Linked DNA regions of Homo sapiens: region 1 is linked to region 2. Evidence: fine-mapped expression QTL. A gene starts in region 2. The other region holds a variant in brackets. All regions are shown on one strand. Distances are from middle to middle. Region 1 holds the start of VPS11 (VPS11 core subunit of CORVET and HOPS complexes). Region 2 holds the start of RPS25 (ribosomal protein S25).

What was found. PIP is the estimated chance that this variant, and not a neighbour inherited with it, causes the effect.
Region 1: its variant is fine-mapped to the expression of RPS25 in whole blood (INTERVAL, PIP 0.94).

What each region holds. Positions count from the first base shown.
Region 1 is chr11:119,061,079-119,069,359 of GRCh38, reverse strand. It overlaps VPS11 (VPS11 core subunit of CORVET and HOPS complexes), which reads right to left and starts at 1,542. Exons shown (of 16, transcript NM_021729.6): 1 at 1,350-1,542; 2 at 16-164. The coding sequence starts at 1,536. LOC124902769 (a long non-coding RNA gene) reads left to right here and starts at 1,605. Exons shown (of 2, transcript XR_007062917.1): 1 at 1,605-1,863; 2 at 3,389-4,098. RefSeq lists enhancers at 1,395-1,444, 1,505-1,554. The variant C/T (reference allele first, on the strand shown) is at 4,656.
Region 2 is chr11:119,014,800-119,023,077 of GRCh38, reverse strand. It overlaps RPS25 (ribosomal protein S25), which reads left to right and starts at 4,735. Exons shown (of 5, transcript NM_001028.3): 1 at 4,735-4,796; 2 at 5,025-5,120; 3 at 5,533-5,716; 4 at 7,139-7,237; 5 at 7,320-7,361. The coding sequence starts at 4,794. The coding sequence ends at 7,233. CENATAC (centrosomal AT-AC splicing factor) reads right to left here. Exons shown (of 11, transcript NM_198489.3): 9 at 7,995-8,084; 10 at 7,639-7,771; 11 at 7,285-7,540. The coding sequence ends at 7,480. TRAPPC4 (trafficking protein particle complex subunit 4) reads right to left here and starts at 4,312. Exons shown (of 5, transcript NM_016146.6): 1 at 4,108-4,312; 2 at 3,761-3,935; 3 at 2,825-2,928; 4 at 1,192-1,318. The coding sequence starts at 4,282. RefSeq lists enhancers at 3,741-4,439, 4,694-4,923, 4,944-5,013 and a silencer at 4,334-4,453.

The DNA.
Region 1 (8,281 bases), 46 kb before region 2:
CCTGCTGGGACTCACCAAGGGGTTGATGCCCTCTTCATCTTCTCCAACAGATGCCAGAATATTGTGCTGCTTCAGTTGGTACAGGTGTGTCACCCGTAGTTTGTAGGCTTGGAAGCCTGTAAGCTGTAGGGAACGTGGCAAGAACCAGATCTGGCCTTCCATATGTGCAGGGTAGTCAAGGAGCCTCCTTTCCAAGGAGAGATACTTACATTCAGACCAGAACTCAGATAACAATTACATGTATATAACTCTAAAATTTTCAAGGATTTTCCCACATACTCCTTATCTTAAAAAGAGTGAGGCCAGGCGCGGTGACTCACACCTGTAATCCCAGCACTTTGGGAGGCCGGGGGGGGGGGGGGGTGCGGATCACCTGAGGTCAGGGGTTCGAGACCAGCCTGGCCAACATGGTGAAACCTGTCTCTACTAAAAATACAAAAATTAGCCAGGTATAATGGTGCGTGCCTGTAATTTCAGCTACTCAGGAGGTTGAGGCAGGAGAATTGCTTGAACCCGGGAGGCGGAGGTTGCAGTGTGCCCAGATCATGCCATTGCACTCCAGCCTGTGCAACAAGAGTGAAAGTCCGTCTCAAAAAAAAGAAAAAAATTTAGTGCGCCGGGCGCGATGGCTCACTCCTGTAATCCCAGCACTTTGGGAGGCCGAGGCGGGTGGATCACGAGGTCAGGAGTTCGAGACCAGCCTGGCCAATATGGTGAAACCCCGTCTCTACTGAAAATGTAAAAAATTAGCCGGGTGTGGTGGCAAGCGCCTGTAGTCCCAGCTACTCGGGAGGCTGTGGCAGGAGAATCGCTTGAACTCAAGAGACGGTTACAGTGAGCCCAGATCCCGCCACTGCACTCCAGCCTGGGCAACAGAGTAAGACTCCGTATCAAAAAAAAAAAAAAAAAAAAAAAGGTAAAAAGGCCAGAATTTAGTAGCAGCAACATGAAGATGAAAGCAACAAACCGCTAGGCTCATTTACCTCCTCGCCAACGATAATATTAGGGCAGGGGAAATCATGTCACTTTACATATTCATCTTTTAAAGCCAACTTGCATTCTTTTTCTTATTGATCTCAAATTAACCTCGTCAAATTGGCATGCACACATCTCCTACAGATAAGGAAATTAAAACCCAGAGAGGTTAAATGACTTGCCCAGGATTGCTCAGTTGATAACAAGTTAGGAGATGGACTTCCTTCTTTCTTCCCGTAGACCACAGAACAACTCTGGATGACCAGCTAAACCAAAGAGGCGCGCGGCACGGACCCCTCCGACAAACAGATTTCATCCTAACTCGATCTCTTCGGGATCCCGGGAGGGAAAAGACAGCTCCAAACGAAGGATATCTCCAAAGACCAGGCTCCCTCGGCCTGAGTCGCAGACAGTGATGCCAGGAGGGAGGCAAAGGAACTTGGAAGCAGCGGATCCAGAAGCAGGTGTGGCCCCGGGAGCGGCCCCATCATTGCTCAGCGGCTCCTTCACCAGCTCCTTGTCGAAGAAAACGAAGCGCCGCCACTGCAGGTAGGCCGCCATTTTGGCCCAGGGCTCCCACCTCCGGGAGCTTTGTCACGTGAGCTGAGCCAGCGAATCACGTGGTCGGCAGCTTCCGGGAGCCCGCGGGCCCAGGAGCTCCTGAGTCGGGGTGACAGCGTCCCGCTGCTGGGAAAGTGGGCGGGGCCGCGCGGGGTAGTCCTAGATCTGCAGTGTGCGAGTTTGCCGGATGTGACTGTAACTTCGCTAGCTAAAATGCTTGAGAGCGGACCCTTCATCCCTTTGAGCATGTTTCTTCCTAAAATGCGCGGATACCGGGAGATCAAGATGAGGGATGTCATGTGCCTTGTGAACTGTCACCCGCCGTGCGTAAGTGAATGACGTTTTGACCTCACAGGACTGTTTTGGGGCATAAATGAAACAGTGTATGTTAAACCAGGTTTTCGGCTGTATGAGAGGAGAAATAAAATTAGAAGTTTGTGTCTGCCACCACGCAGATTGTGAACCATAGTCAATGTTTTATATTCGTTTTTGTTTCCCCCGTCAGAGCGTATGACACCTAACAGACGCTCAAAACGTTTCTTAAGGAAACGGGCTGGGCGCGATGGCTCATGCCTGTCTGTAATCCCAGCACTTTGGGAGGCCGAGGTGGGGGAATCACTTGAGCCCAGGTGTTCGAGACCAGCCTGGGCAACATGGTGAAACCCCATCTCTACAAAAAATACAAAAATGAGCCTGGCATGGTGGTGGACACCTGTGGTCCCAGCTACTTGGGAGGCTGAAGTGGGAGGATCGATTGAGCCCCGGAGTTGGAAGCTGCAGTGAGCTGTGATCGAGCCGCTGCACTCCAGCATGGGCGACAGAGCAAGACCTTGTCTCAAAAAAAAAAAAAGGAAACTGGGAAATACTGGTGGGGCAGGAATTCCCAAGGCCCTGGGCTTTCTCCCCCTTTCATAGTGGCAGGGTAGGGGACATAGAACTGAGCAAAAACCTGGAAGTGGCAGCTTTGAGAGCTGAGTGTTTTAATGAGAAGTGGCAGGTGTCCAAGATATTACATGATCATTCTCCACTCCCAACTCTGGCTAAACCATCTTTGAATCCAAGCAAGATCTATCCTCATGGACAACTACTGCAGGTTTACTGTTTGTGTGCCATGAGAACCTATAGACAGAAGTGACATAGCATCATTTTGAGATGGTAGGGACATATGGAAAAGTGACCCTGTGGTATTTGTGAAGTTTATTGTTTGCACTCCCCCAACTTCCTTTTTTTTCTTTTTTCTTTTTTTTTTTTTTTTTTTTTAGACAGAGTCTCTCTCTATCCCCCAGGCTGAAGCGCAGTGGCACAATCTCAGCTGACTGCAACCTCCGCCTCCCGAGTTCAAGCGATTCTTATGCCTCAGCCTCCTGAGTAGCTGGGATTACAGCTGCCTGCCACCACGCCTGGCTAATTTTTGTATTTTTAGTAGAGTTGGGGTTTTGCCATTTTGGCCAGGCTGGTCTCGAACTCCTGACCTCGGGTGATCCACCCGCCTCGGCCTCCCAAGTACTGGAATTACAGGCGTGAGCCACCGCACCCGGCCCTCCCCCAACTTATTTCAGAATATTTGATGCTGTATTTCCACCAGCCAGAGTTCCCTGAGAGCGGGGGCTACATCTTGTACCGTAACTGTGAACGAGGCCTAGCAGAGCCTGGTAGAAGTTCCATGTTTGGTTGAAGGAATGAATGTGGTGTGGATGCCTCTCCTCTTATCCACTCCTCTCCTCAATCTGGTTGATGGGCAGGTGGCGTCCATTTGTCTGAAGAGGTAAATGATAGGAAGAAACTCTAGCCACCACCATGCACACAGATTTCCTGACTTCCAACTCAAGTTTCTTTCCTCTTCATCACACAGGATATCTCCAATTCATTGCAACTGTTTCAGGATACCAACTGTTGGGCAGAAGCACAAATGGGAGCGGGTTGAACCCACTTTCACCTACTGAGCATATTCCATACTGGTCATCAGAATGTTTAGATAGTATGTTAATATGTCAGTTGTTAAGCCTATGAAGAATATATGTTAAAAGAAGCAATGTGGCCAGGCAAGCTGGCTCATGCTTGTAATCCCAGCGCTTTAAGAGGCTGAGGCAGGAGGATCCCTTGAGGCCAGGAGTTCAAGACCAGCGTGGGCAACAGGCTTCAAAAAAGAAGAAATGTAAAAGCAGAGATGTGAACAAGAGATAGAGTGCATCTTTGTTGCTTGGGTGCTCCCCCTGTTGTCCAATGGCAGAAGCTCCACGTCTTCCTCTGAGGGCTGAATCTGGTTCTACTTGTGCCCATTGGATCCTCTTATTGATGAGGGTTACAAAGGCCGAGATTGGCCTGCCAGAGAGACCCACAGCACCTCTTCAGACTTACTACCTTCTTTCCTTTCCTTCTTTTGACAAATATGTATTGAGCACTCCTAGTCCAGGAATTGTACCAAATGCCCAGAATATAAATGAACAAGACATGGTCCTCAACCACCACCCTAGAGACAGGCATAAAAAGAACTGACAGTAACAAGCCCCTAATTTCATGTAGTAAATTATATCTAATAAAGTGCCTTCGCTTTTCATGGAATCTTCGTAGCAACCATCTGCAGAAGAGGTATCATTATCCCTGATGAGAAATGGAGTCTCAAAGAGTTTAACTTAAAGTGGCTCTCTCTGGGCAAAAACTTCAAAGTTCTTTGGAAATAAAATGAGTAATTCAGTCCCCTACCCTCTAATTAGATAGTTTGATGGGTGTAAAGCTAGATTATGCTTGTCAGAACATACACCAGGGTTTGTCTCTTAGTTACACTGGTCTGAACCCAGGAATTTCAGGATAGTGAGGAATATAACCAAGCAAATTACACAGAAAATGACTGTTCACTTACAGTTAGTTCTGCATACTGAGAACTCGAGTTCTGAATGGACTAAAGATAAAGAAGAAATACAAGTCTTTAGTTTCGAATTAGAGAGGTCATAACTCAGAATCAAGAATGCAAGAATTGTCTTGCAGTATTTTCTTTTCCCTTTAGCAAACTGCTGCCCATGATATAAAACAGTTACATCCACTGGAACAAAACAGGAACACTTCTTGTCCCAAATGCAAACTTTAATTTATTTTTATCTTATTTTATTTTATTTTTGAGA[C/T]GGAGTCTCGCTCTGTCGCCAGTCGTCAGGCTTGAGTGCAGTGGCGTGATCTCGGCTCACTGCAACGTCCGCCTCCCAGGTTCAAGTGATTCTCCTGCCTCAGCCTCCTGTGTAGTTGCCTCAGCAAACTTTAATTTTCCGTTTTTATCATCTGGCTCTCCAGGTAGAAACTACCTTCTTTTCTTTTTGAGATAGAGTCTCCCTCCATTGCCCAGGCTGGAGTGCAGTGGCACGATCTCGACTCACTGCAACCTCTGTCTCGTCTCCCAGGTTCAAGCGATTCTTGTGCCTCAGCCACCCAAGTAGCTGAGACTACAGGCGCACGCCATCATGCCCGGCTAGTTTTTGTATTTTTTGTAGAGACATGGTTTTGACATGTTTCCCCGGTTGGTCTCAAACTCCTGGCCTCAAGTGATCCACTCGCCTCTGCCTCCCAAAGTGCTAGGATTACAGGCATGAGCCACCACGCCCGGCCTGTTGTTGTTTTAATGTTCTTCCAGTTTTCGTCAATAACCGCATATTTCTTTCGTTCTTTTTTGTTTTGTTTTGTTTTTTGAGACACGGCTAGAGTGCAGTGGCACAATCACGGCTCACCACAGTCTCCACCTCCTAGGCTCACGAGATACTCCCACCTCAGCCTCCCCAGTAGCTGAGACTACAGGCTCATGCCACCATGCCCAGTTAATTTTGTTGTTGTTGTACTTTTAGTAGAGACAGTGTTCTGCCCTGTTGCCCAGGCTAGTCACAAACTGCTAGGCTCAAGCAATCCACACGCCTCAGCCTTCCAAAGTGCTAGGATTACAAGTGTAAGCCACCATATTTCTTTCTTTTTTTTGGAGGCGGGGGCCGGGGAGACAGGGTCTCACTCTGTCGCCCAGGCTGGAGTGCAATGGCGCGATCTCAGCTCACCCCAACCTCTGCCTCCCAGGTTCAAGTGATTCTCCTGCCTCAGCCTCTCAAGTATCTGGGATTACAGGCACACACCACTACCACCCAGTTAATTTTTGTATTTTTACTAGAGACAGGGTTTCACCATGTTGTCCAGGCTGGTCTCAAACTCCTGACCACAAATGACCCACCCGCCTGGGCCTCCCAAAGTACTGTGAGCCACCGTGCCTGGCCCTAGCCACATATTTCTTTTGTAATTCTAAAAATATTGTTATAGAAGTAGGAAAAAATTTATCTTGGTTTATCTCCTGCTGAAAATGGGCTCTCTCCTGCCTAGGGTTACAGCAAAGTCAAACCTAGAGTCTCTTGAGGCCAGGCAAGGTGGCTTATGCCTATAATCCAGCACTTTGGGGGGCCAAGGTGGGAGGATTACTTGAGGCCTGGAGTTCAAGACCAGCTTGGGCAACATAGGCAGACCTCGTCTCTACTAAAAATAAATAAAGAAATAAGTAGTCAGGTGTGGTGATGTGCACCTGTAGTTCCAGCTACTTGAGAGGCTGAGGAGGGAGAATTGCTTAAGCCCAGGAGATGGAGGCTGCAGTGAGCTGTGATCACACCACTGCACTCCAGCCTGGGCAAGAGAGTGAGCACCCTGTCTCAAAACAACAACAACAACAAACCCTAGAGTTGTTTGTATGACAGACAAAATAATTTTTAAATGTTTTATTGAAGTAACAACATACAAAAAAGTTGTAGAGTAGTACAACCCACTGAAATTCCACAAACTAACTGGACACTCCCATCGTAATCAGCAATGAGAACATGGCTAGCAGCCAGGCACAGTGACTCAGGCATGTAATCCCAGTATTTTGGGAGGCCGAAGCAGGCAGATCACCTGAGGTCAGGAGTTCGAGACCAGCGTGGGCAACATGGTGAAACCCTGTCCCTACTAAATACAAAAATTAGCTGGGCATGGTGTTGCACGCCTACAGTCCCAGCTACTTGGGAGGCTGAGGCTGGAGAATGGCTTGAACCCCAGAGGCAGAGGTTGCAGTGAGCTGAGATTGTGCCACTGCACACAAGCCTGGGTGACAGAGTGAGACTCTCTCTCAAAAAAAAAGGAGTGGGGGGAACATATCTAGCACCCCTAGAAGCTTGCCTTATGTCCTCTTCTAAACCCTCCAGCTTGGGCAACAGAGCAAGACCCTGTATCTAAAGGATAGCAGCATCCTGACTTCTATCCCTGTAGCTTAGTTTTGCCAGCTTTTAAACTTGATATTTAAATCATACAGTATGTACTTGGGCTTCTTTCACTCAGTATTATGTTTGTAGAATTCATCTAAGTTGTCCTATGTAATAATAGTCCACTCATTCTTATTGCTGTATAGAATTCCACTGTATGAATCTCTGATTCATTTATCTATCCAATTGTTGATGAGCATTTGGATAGTTTTCAGCCCGGGGCTGTTATAAATAAAGCTATTACCAACAGCCTCTGGGTGAACATATGTTTACTTTTTTTTGTTGTTGTTGTGACAGAGTCTCACTGTGTCACCCAGGCTGGAGTGCAGTGGCACAATCTTGGCGCACTACAACCTCCACCTCTCAGGTTCAAGCAATTCTCCTGCCTCAGACTCCCCAGTACCTAGGATTACAGGTGCGTGCCACCACGCCGGGCCAATTTTTTTTTTTTTTTTTTTTTTTTGAGATGGAGTCTGGCTCAGTCGCCCAGACTGGAGTGCAGTGGCGCGATCTCGGCTCACTGCAACCTCCACCTCCTGGGTTCAAGCAATTCTTCTGGCTCAGCCTCCTGAGTAGCTGGGACTACAGGCACATGCCACCACCAATTTTTGTATTTTTAGTGGAGATGGGGTTTCACCGTGTTAGGATGGTCTTGATTTCCTGACCTCATGATCCACCTGCCTCAGCCTCCCAAAGTGCAGGGATTACAGGCGGGAGCCACCCCCAGCCGACAACTAATTTTTAAAAATTCTTCTGGTGTAGGATATTCTCTCTGATCAACACTGCCCTCAGCCCATCATGTAATTTGCATGGTTTATGTGCATATATACCCTCACCGATATGTCTATTTTACACCTCTGTCAGTTTGGCACATGTTCTGCAAGACGGCAACTTTCTTCCCTTAGGTTTCTGCAGTGTTGGGGAAGGGATATAGTCCTCCAATGTTAACAAGTTATTCTGGAGAAGAACCAATGAGTTCACCTGCCTAGGTCAATCTAAATCAGGTGTTTTACATTAAAAATTTCCCATTGTTCTTCAGCTTGTTCTTGTGAAATACTATTCTACCCTCTGGTCCCAGAACAAAACAGCTGACTCCTCAGAGCACTTGCACCTGCTTCACTACCCAGGGGGACAGATACCCAGGCTGAGAACTGTAGCTGTGGCAGAACCATGCTCCCACCAGGGGTATTCATGGTTGGAGCTCTCTTAGGAGCTTCGAGAGCTTTCTTCTTCTTCTTCTTTTTTTTTTTTTTTTTGAGACAGGGTCTCACTCTGTCGCCCAGCCTGGAGTACAGTGGTACAATCTCGGCTCACTGCAGCCTCTGCCTCCTGGGTTCAAGCAATTCTCCTGCCTCAGCCTCCTGAGTAGCTGGGATTACAGGCATGCACCACCACATTGGGCTAATTTTTTTGTATTTTAGTAGAGACGGGGTTTCACCATGTTGCCCAGGCTGGTCTTGAACTCCTAAGCTCAGACAATCTGCCTGCCTCGGCCT
Region 2 (8,278 bases):
CAAAAGAATCGCCTGAACCCGGAAGGCAGAGGTTGTGGTGAGCCGTGATGGCACCATTGCATTCCAGCCTGGGTGGTTAAGAGTGAAGCTCAGTCTCAAAAAAAAAAAAAAAAAAAAAAACATCAACAAAAAAAACCCCACAAACAAACAAACAAAAATGACATAAACACCAAGGAAAGTCTGTTTTCTCTAAATAGTCACCCAGGCTGGAATCAGTGGCACGATCTCAGCTCACTGCAACCTTTTCCTCCCAGATTGAAGCGATTCTGCTTGCCTCAGCCTACTTGAGTAGCTGGGATTGCAGGTGCACACGACCACACCTGGCTAATTTTTGTATTTTCAGTATTTTTAGCAGAGATGGGGTTTCACCATGTTGACCAGGCTGGTCTTAAACTCCTGACCTCAAGTGATCCGCCCGCCTCAGCCTCCCAAAGTGCTGGGATTACAGGCGTGAGCCACTGCACCCAGCTACTGTTGTCTTATTTATTTAGAGACACGGTCTTGTTCTGTTGCCCAGGCTGGAATGCAGTGGCACGAGCATGGTTCACTGCTGCCTTGACCTTCCAGGTTTAAGCAATCCTCCCGCCTCAGCTTCCTTAATAGCTGGCACTACAGGTGTCCGCCACCACACCAGGCTAATTTTTTTTTTTTTTGTAAAGATGGGGTTCTATGTTGTCCAGGCTGATCTCAAACTCCTGGGCTGAAGTGATCCTACCCTCTCCGTCTTCCAAAGTGCTGAGATTACACACGTGAGCCACCGGCCTTTCCTTGTGTCTTACTTAAAAGTAATACTCGGCCGGGCGCAGTGGCTCACGCCTGTAATCCCAGCACTGTGGGAGGCCAAGGCAGGTGGATCACCTGAGGCCGGGAGTTTGAGACCAGCCTGACCAACATGGTGAAACCTTGTCTTTACTAGAAACATGAAATTAGCCAGGCGTGGTGGCACATGCATCCAATCCCAGCTACTCAGGAGGCTGAGCCAGGAGAATCGCTTGAACCCGGGAGGCAGAGGTTACAGCGAGCCAAGATCGCATCATTGCACTCCAGCCTGGGCAACAAGAGCGAAACTCCGTCTCAAAAACAAACAAACAAAAAAAGTAATACTCTACTATGCTTCAGCTAACTTTGGACAGAGCACACAGGGAGGGGCAAGGACGCTTTAAACAGTATCTGGGAAGTGGGGCCACTTACCTGATAGGCATTTCTAAGGAATAGAATGGATTCTTGAGGGCAAAGTCTGAGTAAATCTCATAAATCTTTCGGAGAAGAGAATCTATTCCAGCTTGCCTAGGATCTGCTAGAACCACAAACTTGATCCCTGGAGAGAGACCAAGAATGGTTACCAAAGCGTAGACACTGGAGCAAATAGTGTCATCCTGTATTTGTACAGCACTTTCAATTTTGCAAAACACTTTCATAAGCCTATTTTAATTTTATTCTTTTTACCACATAATGCAGGAAAGGCAAGACTTTGAATCTACCGATGAGACCAGAGAAGTGAAGTAACTTTGTTATGTCACCCACCTGATTAAGACCAGGCTTTGAGTTCTAGCTCTGCCACTTACTAACAGTTTTGGAGTCCCTCAGCAGAAACATTGCCAGGCAGGGGACAAAGTCAGGCAGTTTTCAATAAATGAAGAGGGTGAAGCAATGACACTGGCAATCCAAAGGTCATATCCATTTTGCTTTCAAATTTCATTTTGGAAAAACACTTAACACCTTCCAAAGTACACGCAACAGGAAATAGCATTAAGGTGAGTTTTATCTGAACACAAGATAACCTCTGCTGAACATGCTGGGTGGCATGGACAAAATCAGTTTCAGATTAAATATTGGTTTTGTATTCACAAAACAAACAAACAGATGTGTCTATAAAATTGTGCCAGGAAGGCCGGGCGCGGTGGCTCATGCCTGTAATCCCAGCACTGTGGGAGGCAGAGGCAGGTGGATCACCTGAGGTCAGGAGTTCGAGACCAGCCTGGCCAACATGGTGAAACCCCATCTCTCCTAAAAAATACAAAAATTAGCTGGGCGTGTGGCGGATGCCTGTAATCCCAGCTACTCAGGAGGCTGAGGCAGGAGAATTGCTTGAACCCGGGTAGTGGTGGCTGCAGTGAGCCAACATCGCGCCACTGCACTCTAGCCTGGGTGACAGAGCAAGACTCCATCTCAAAACAAGACAAAACAAAAAAACCCCACAAAAAATTAGCTGGGTGTGGTGGCGGGCATCTGTAGTCTCAGCTACTTGGGAGGCTGAGGCAGGAGAATTGCTTGAACCCAGGAGGTGGTGGCTGCAGTGAGCCAAGATCATGCCACTACACTCCAGCCTGAGTGGCAGAGTGAAACTGCATCTCAAAAAAAAAAAAAAAAAAAAGAACTGTGGGTCGGGTGTGGTGGCTCACGCCTGTAATCCCAACACTTTGGGAGGCGGGCAATCACCTGAGGTCGGGAGTTTGAGACCACCATGACCAATATGGAGAAACACCATCTCTAATAAAAACAGAAAAATTAGCCGGGTGTGGTGACACATGCCTGTAATCCCAGCTATTTGGGAGCCTGAGGCAGGAGAATCGCTTGAACCCAGGGGGCGGATCATGCCCCTGCATTCCAGCCTGGGCAACAAGAGTGAAACATTTCAAAAAAAAAAAGAATTGTGCCAGGAAAAGCACACCCCCTCTTCTTGCTTACCAAAGGTGTCTTTGGTCAACCCCCTCCTCCCACCTTCTCCACCACACTCCTCTGGCCCACCTGGAGATGCAAACTTATCAGTATCTCTTCCCCACCTTCTCCATCACACTCCTCTGGCCTCCGTGGAGATGCATACCTGTCAGTGTCTGGTAGCAGTGCAATTTGAATGTGTCTGTCTCCAGCATCTCAATGCCTGAGCTTCCCTGTTCAGGAGACAGCTGGGAGCCGATGGCAAAGAGCCTATATGCAAAGGAGGCAAAGTTGCTCTAAGGAAGGAGTGCTTCTCAAACTTCCACTGAAGTGTCCCTATTTGCTGAGGAGTTCACATTACAGCCTGGGACAGTCAGGAGAAGTAGTGTGAACTGACTGGCAGTAGTGTCAAAATTTCTAAGTTCATTTGAATTCTGTGAATATTTTACATTCATACTTTGTTACAAGACATTTTACATCTAAAACTTTGGGTAAAATGAATACTCTAGGAATATGTGCCACGCTTACTAAGCTTGTGTTTAAGCAAAGGCCGGCACATCTGATATCACAATTGAGAGCAGAAAAAGTTTAAAGGTCATTTAGTTAAACTGGCTTTCTTTAAATATGAAGAAACTAAGGCTCAGAGAAGAGAAGTTGACTTTAAGTAAGATGACACCTCGGCCGGGCGCGGTGGCTCACTCCTGTAATCCCAGCACTTTGGGAAGCCGAGGCAGGTGGATCACCTGAGGTCAGGAGTTTGAGACCAGCCTGGCCAACATGGCAAAACCCCTCTCTACTAAAAATACAAAAATTAGCTGGTCGTGGTGGCACGCGCCTGTAATCCCAGCTACTCGGGAGGCTGAGGCAGGAGAATCGCTTGAACCTGGGAGGCAGAGGCTGCAGTGAGCCGAGATCCCGCCACTGCGCTCCAGCCTGGGTAACTCCGCGGCCCCTCCCCACCCAGCAAAAAAAGATGACACCACTGCCGTTATTACCTAAAATCTAGATCTGGATCGGTTGCGTTTTTCATAACACCAGAACGACGATTTAAGAAAAGGTAGACAAATTACAAGCGCTGCCGTTCAGGAGACGGGGGACTTACGAGTGGAACATGGAGGCCAGCATAAGCTTCTCATTAGAAGTGAGGCGGGGCCGGCCAAATCGAATGGACACCGGGTAATTAGCAGGGTTACCCAGATACTCCAGCACCTCTTTCCCGTCGGCCGTGTACCTGCCATTCACGTCCATGCCATTGATGGCCAGCACTGCATGACCCACTGCAGAGGTGAAGCTAACGGTCAGCGAAGGTGCAGCCCGGGGATTCCGCCGAGGGGACAAGGGACCCGACACAACCCCTTTTCCCCCAACCCCGCACCTACAACCAGCCCACTTCTACAGCACTGGGGCCCTCCCACCCCCGCACCCGCCACGGGCCCGAGCCTAGCCCACCTCGGATGCCGTCCCGCTGGCCGAAAGCAACCAACACACGCTCATCGTGTAGCTTGAGCAGCAGATCCAGCGGATAACTGAAAGTTTTCTCAGCCTCAGCCCGTGGCGCGTAGCTGTCCAACTGGTAAATCAAGCCGCCAGCTTTGTTCACCACATACACACTAAAAATCGCCATCGCTGCCTTGCCGCTCGGAAACTGGTATTCAGCCTCTACCCGACGGCCCCTCCCCGGAACCGCATCACAGCACTTGCCGCCGGCCCCACCCCAGCCTCCTCCTCCTCCTCCTCCTCCTCCCGCGCCCCCCGTGCAGCCACCTGCTGCACTTGCGCACTGGGAGCGACACGCTCGGGCATAAGTAGTGCCGGAAAGTTAGCTGCCGAGACCTGGTGGATTGCTTTTCGTTTATCAGTGCAGGAAAACAGCGCTATAGTATGCGTCACAACTAGCGCAGACTCCGGCAGTATTTAGGCGGTGCGGCTTGGGAACTAGAATCCACTTCCTGTCTTCCGCCTCAGGCTAGAGGGCGAGCGCTTCGCCGTGGGACTTCTTCTGCCTGGCTCCGCCTTTTGCCCCGGAAGTACTCACAGCGGACGGTGGTTTTTGGGCCCGTTTCTGAGCAGCGCTTCCTTTTTGTCCGACATCTTGACGAGGCTGCGGTGTCTGCTGCTATTCTCCGAGCTTCGCAATGGTAAGCTTCAGGGGTGTGAAGTCGCCGGCGTTCTTGGGTTTGAGGACTCAGTGGGGAGAGCCTTCGGCGGGAGCGCTCCTTGGCCTGCCGGCCTCGGTTGCAGGGCGGGCGCGGTTATTGCTTGGCCCATGTGCTCTGGTGGTGGAGTTTGCGGGGGCTGAGGGCGCAGTATTAGGGGACTTTGGCGCTATTTGAGGACCTGGTTGCATTCCCGCTGCCCTCCTACAGCCGCCTAAGGACGACAAGAAGAAGAAGGACGCTGGAAAGTCGGCCAAGAAAGACAAAGACCCAGTGAACAAATCCGGGGGCAAGGCCAAAAAGAAGGTAGAAATAAGACCTCTCTGAAAGAGACTAGGGGTAACTCTCTCGTAATCCTCTAGTAATAGGTAACTTGTATAGTAAGTGGTTTTTCAGGTGTAGATTTCTAGAGTCAAAATGTGAGAGTTTATCTTCCCGTCACCACTCGTTCTTTTTCCCATTAGGATCATGAAAATGGGTCTGTTGTGCGAAGTGTCTGCCGCTGTGCCTGCTGTGTTATTTTTAACTGATCTAGTGGGGCTCGGCCCCTGTTTGAAGGCCAAAAACGTGTCGGTGTTTTTTTTTTGTTTTTGTTTTAGTAATGTGTAATTTATCCTTGATAACGGTGGAACAGATTTCTCTGACGCAGATTACTCGAGAGGGAAAGGGTGCTTCTGCCAGAAATACTAACTTGTTTCTGTTTTGTTTTGGTGAGCAGAAGTGGTCCAAAGGCAAAGTTCGGGACAAGCTCAATAACTTAGTCTTGTTTGACAAAGCTACCTATGATAAACTCTGTAAGGAAGTTCCCAACTATAAACTTATAACCCCAGCTGTGGTCTCTGAGAGACTGAAGATTCGAGGCTCCCTGGCCAGGGCAGCCCTTCAGGAGCTCCTTAGTAAAGGTGAGGGGTGTATCCTACATGTGTGTTTTTGTAGGTTAAATTGTCTTGACCATGTTAAGCATCTTCAGTGGTTTTGCTGGAAAAGCAGAATTAAAAAAAAAAAGCGTGGCTTGACCATTGGCTGTTAGTAATGTAATTCTGACGTCTTACTCCTGATCCTGAGATGAATTCTCAGGGTTCTTAGCCACTTTTGTGCCGTGGACCCTGTGGCAGTTTAGTGAAGCCCAAGGATCTTTTATGTTTCGAGTAAATGGATGCATAGAATTACAGGGACAACCGTTTTTGAAATAATTAGATTACTATTTTGAAACAACTTTGAAAATGTTTAAAACCTTTATGGTAAATATTTTGTTGATGTATTAAATTTTAAAACCAGAAATTTAGTACGGTCTACTCAGTAGTATGGTCTGATTACCATAATTCCACAATAATAAGGCTCAGCTAACTATAGTGACTGAACGTCTATAATTCTAGCACTTTGGGAGGCCAAGGCGGGTGAATCAACGGAGGTCAGGAGTTAAAGACCAGCCTGGCCAATATGGTGAAAACCTGCTCTACTGAAAGTTAGCTGGACGTGGGGGCACACGTCTGTAATCCCAGCTACTCAGGATGCTGAGGCATGAGGATCCCTTGAACCCAGGAGATGGAGGTGGCAGTGAGCCGAGATGACACCACTGCACTCCAGCCTTAGTGACAGCAAAAGACTGTCTCAGAAAGGGGGGGGGGGTGGAAGATAATGGAGCCCTAATTTAAAGGAAAAGTAAGGATAGATGATCGTTAAAAACTAGGATTCTCGGTTACCGAACGTCAGATTAAGCAATTCTGGAGCCAGGTGCAGTGGTACCCTTGTATTTCTAGCTACTTGGGAGGCCAAAGCAGGAGGATCATTTGAGCCAAGGAGTTTTAAGACCATTCTGGGCACCTCTGAGAGAACTCTGTCTTTTTGTTTTCCTTTTCTTTAAATAGAGATGCGGTTTTGCCATGTTGCCCAGGCTGGTCTCCTGGGCTCAAGAGATCCACCTGTCCAAAGTGCTGGGATTACAGGCATGAGCCTCTGCACCCGGCCAAAACAAACCTTACTAGAGTCTCATTCTGTTGCCCAGGTTGGAGTGCGGAGGGGCAGTCTTGGCTCAATGCAACCACCAATTCCTGGGTTCAGGTGGTCCTCACCTCAGCTTCCCAAGTAGCTGGAATTACAAGCATGTGCCACCATGCCCAGCTAATTTTTGTATTTTTGGTAGAGATGGGGTTTCACCTTGTTGGCCAGGCTGGTGTGCAACTCCTTACCTCAAGCTATCTGCCCGTCTCCACCTCCCAAAGCAGTGGGATTATAAGCATGAGCCACCGCGCCCAGCCAAAAACCTTACTAGTTTCTATTGTAGCATCTGTTAAGCATCTCATCGTGCTATTCTCTCCCCCTAGGACTTATCAAACTGGTTTCAAAGCACAGAGCTCAAGTAATTTACACCAGAAATACCAAGGGTGGAGATGCTCCAGCTGCTGGTGAAGATGCATGAATAGGTGAGTAGGAATGTGTGGGCTCATGGTGTAGGAGGTAGATACAAAGCTTTATGGTTCTGATTCTTTTAATTTTTTTTTACAGGTCCAACCAGCTGTACATTTGGAAAAATAAAACTTTATTAAATCAAATGAATGAGTATGTCTGTTTCCTAAGAAAGACAATGATAAAGAATTTGGTGGAAGGTATAATAGGGGTTTGTTGACTTTGCTTTTAGCCTCATGGTAGTTGGTAGAGAGCATGATTAGCTTTTTTCTGTATGTGACTGCTTCTTCATTGCTGCAGCTTCAGTTTTGAATTGATGTCTGAAAGGAAATAAAGGGTTAACACGATGATGAAGGGTGACATCTCCAAAAAGGAGGTTGGATGGGTAGGTTGGAGACCCGGCACTGAACACACATACCTGGACTGCCAGCGGCGTCCATTATTCCAGACGCGGCCAAAAGAGGGCAGCCAGCCTGCACTGGTCCTGGAGCTGTGATCAAAGTTGGCCCCAACTCGGTCTGGGGGGAGTTTTTTCAACTTCTGTTTTTCCTCTGTACAATGATAGGGAAACTTTTATTTTTCTTTATTGAAGAATATAGAGATGGGGTCTCACTATGTTGTCCAGGCTGTTTTCAAACTTCTGGGCTCAAGTGACCCTCCCACCTCAGCCTCCCAAAATGCTAGGATTATAGCCATGAGCCACCACACACAGGCAAGGAAACCATTTTTGAGTGTGAAGATTTAGACGATCCTCTCTTGAATTAGTTTACTTACTTTCTTTAAGAAATTCTTCATAGGATGGTCCTATTTCTTGGTTCCCAGCAATGTATTCTTCATCTTGGATCATCCAGGGAGGTGTGGCACCTGAAAAAAAAATTAAGGCTTTTTTTTTTTTTTTTAAGTCTTCAGGCTATTGTGAAACATGTCCTAGCTGTTAGCTTACCTCTCCTCATTAAGAGCTAGAAATGTCTAAAAGCAAAGCCCAGGAATTCTGGAGCTTTAGAAGGCCCTAGGCTAATTTAAAGCGACATACCCCATATGTGACAGTCATTTTAAAA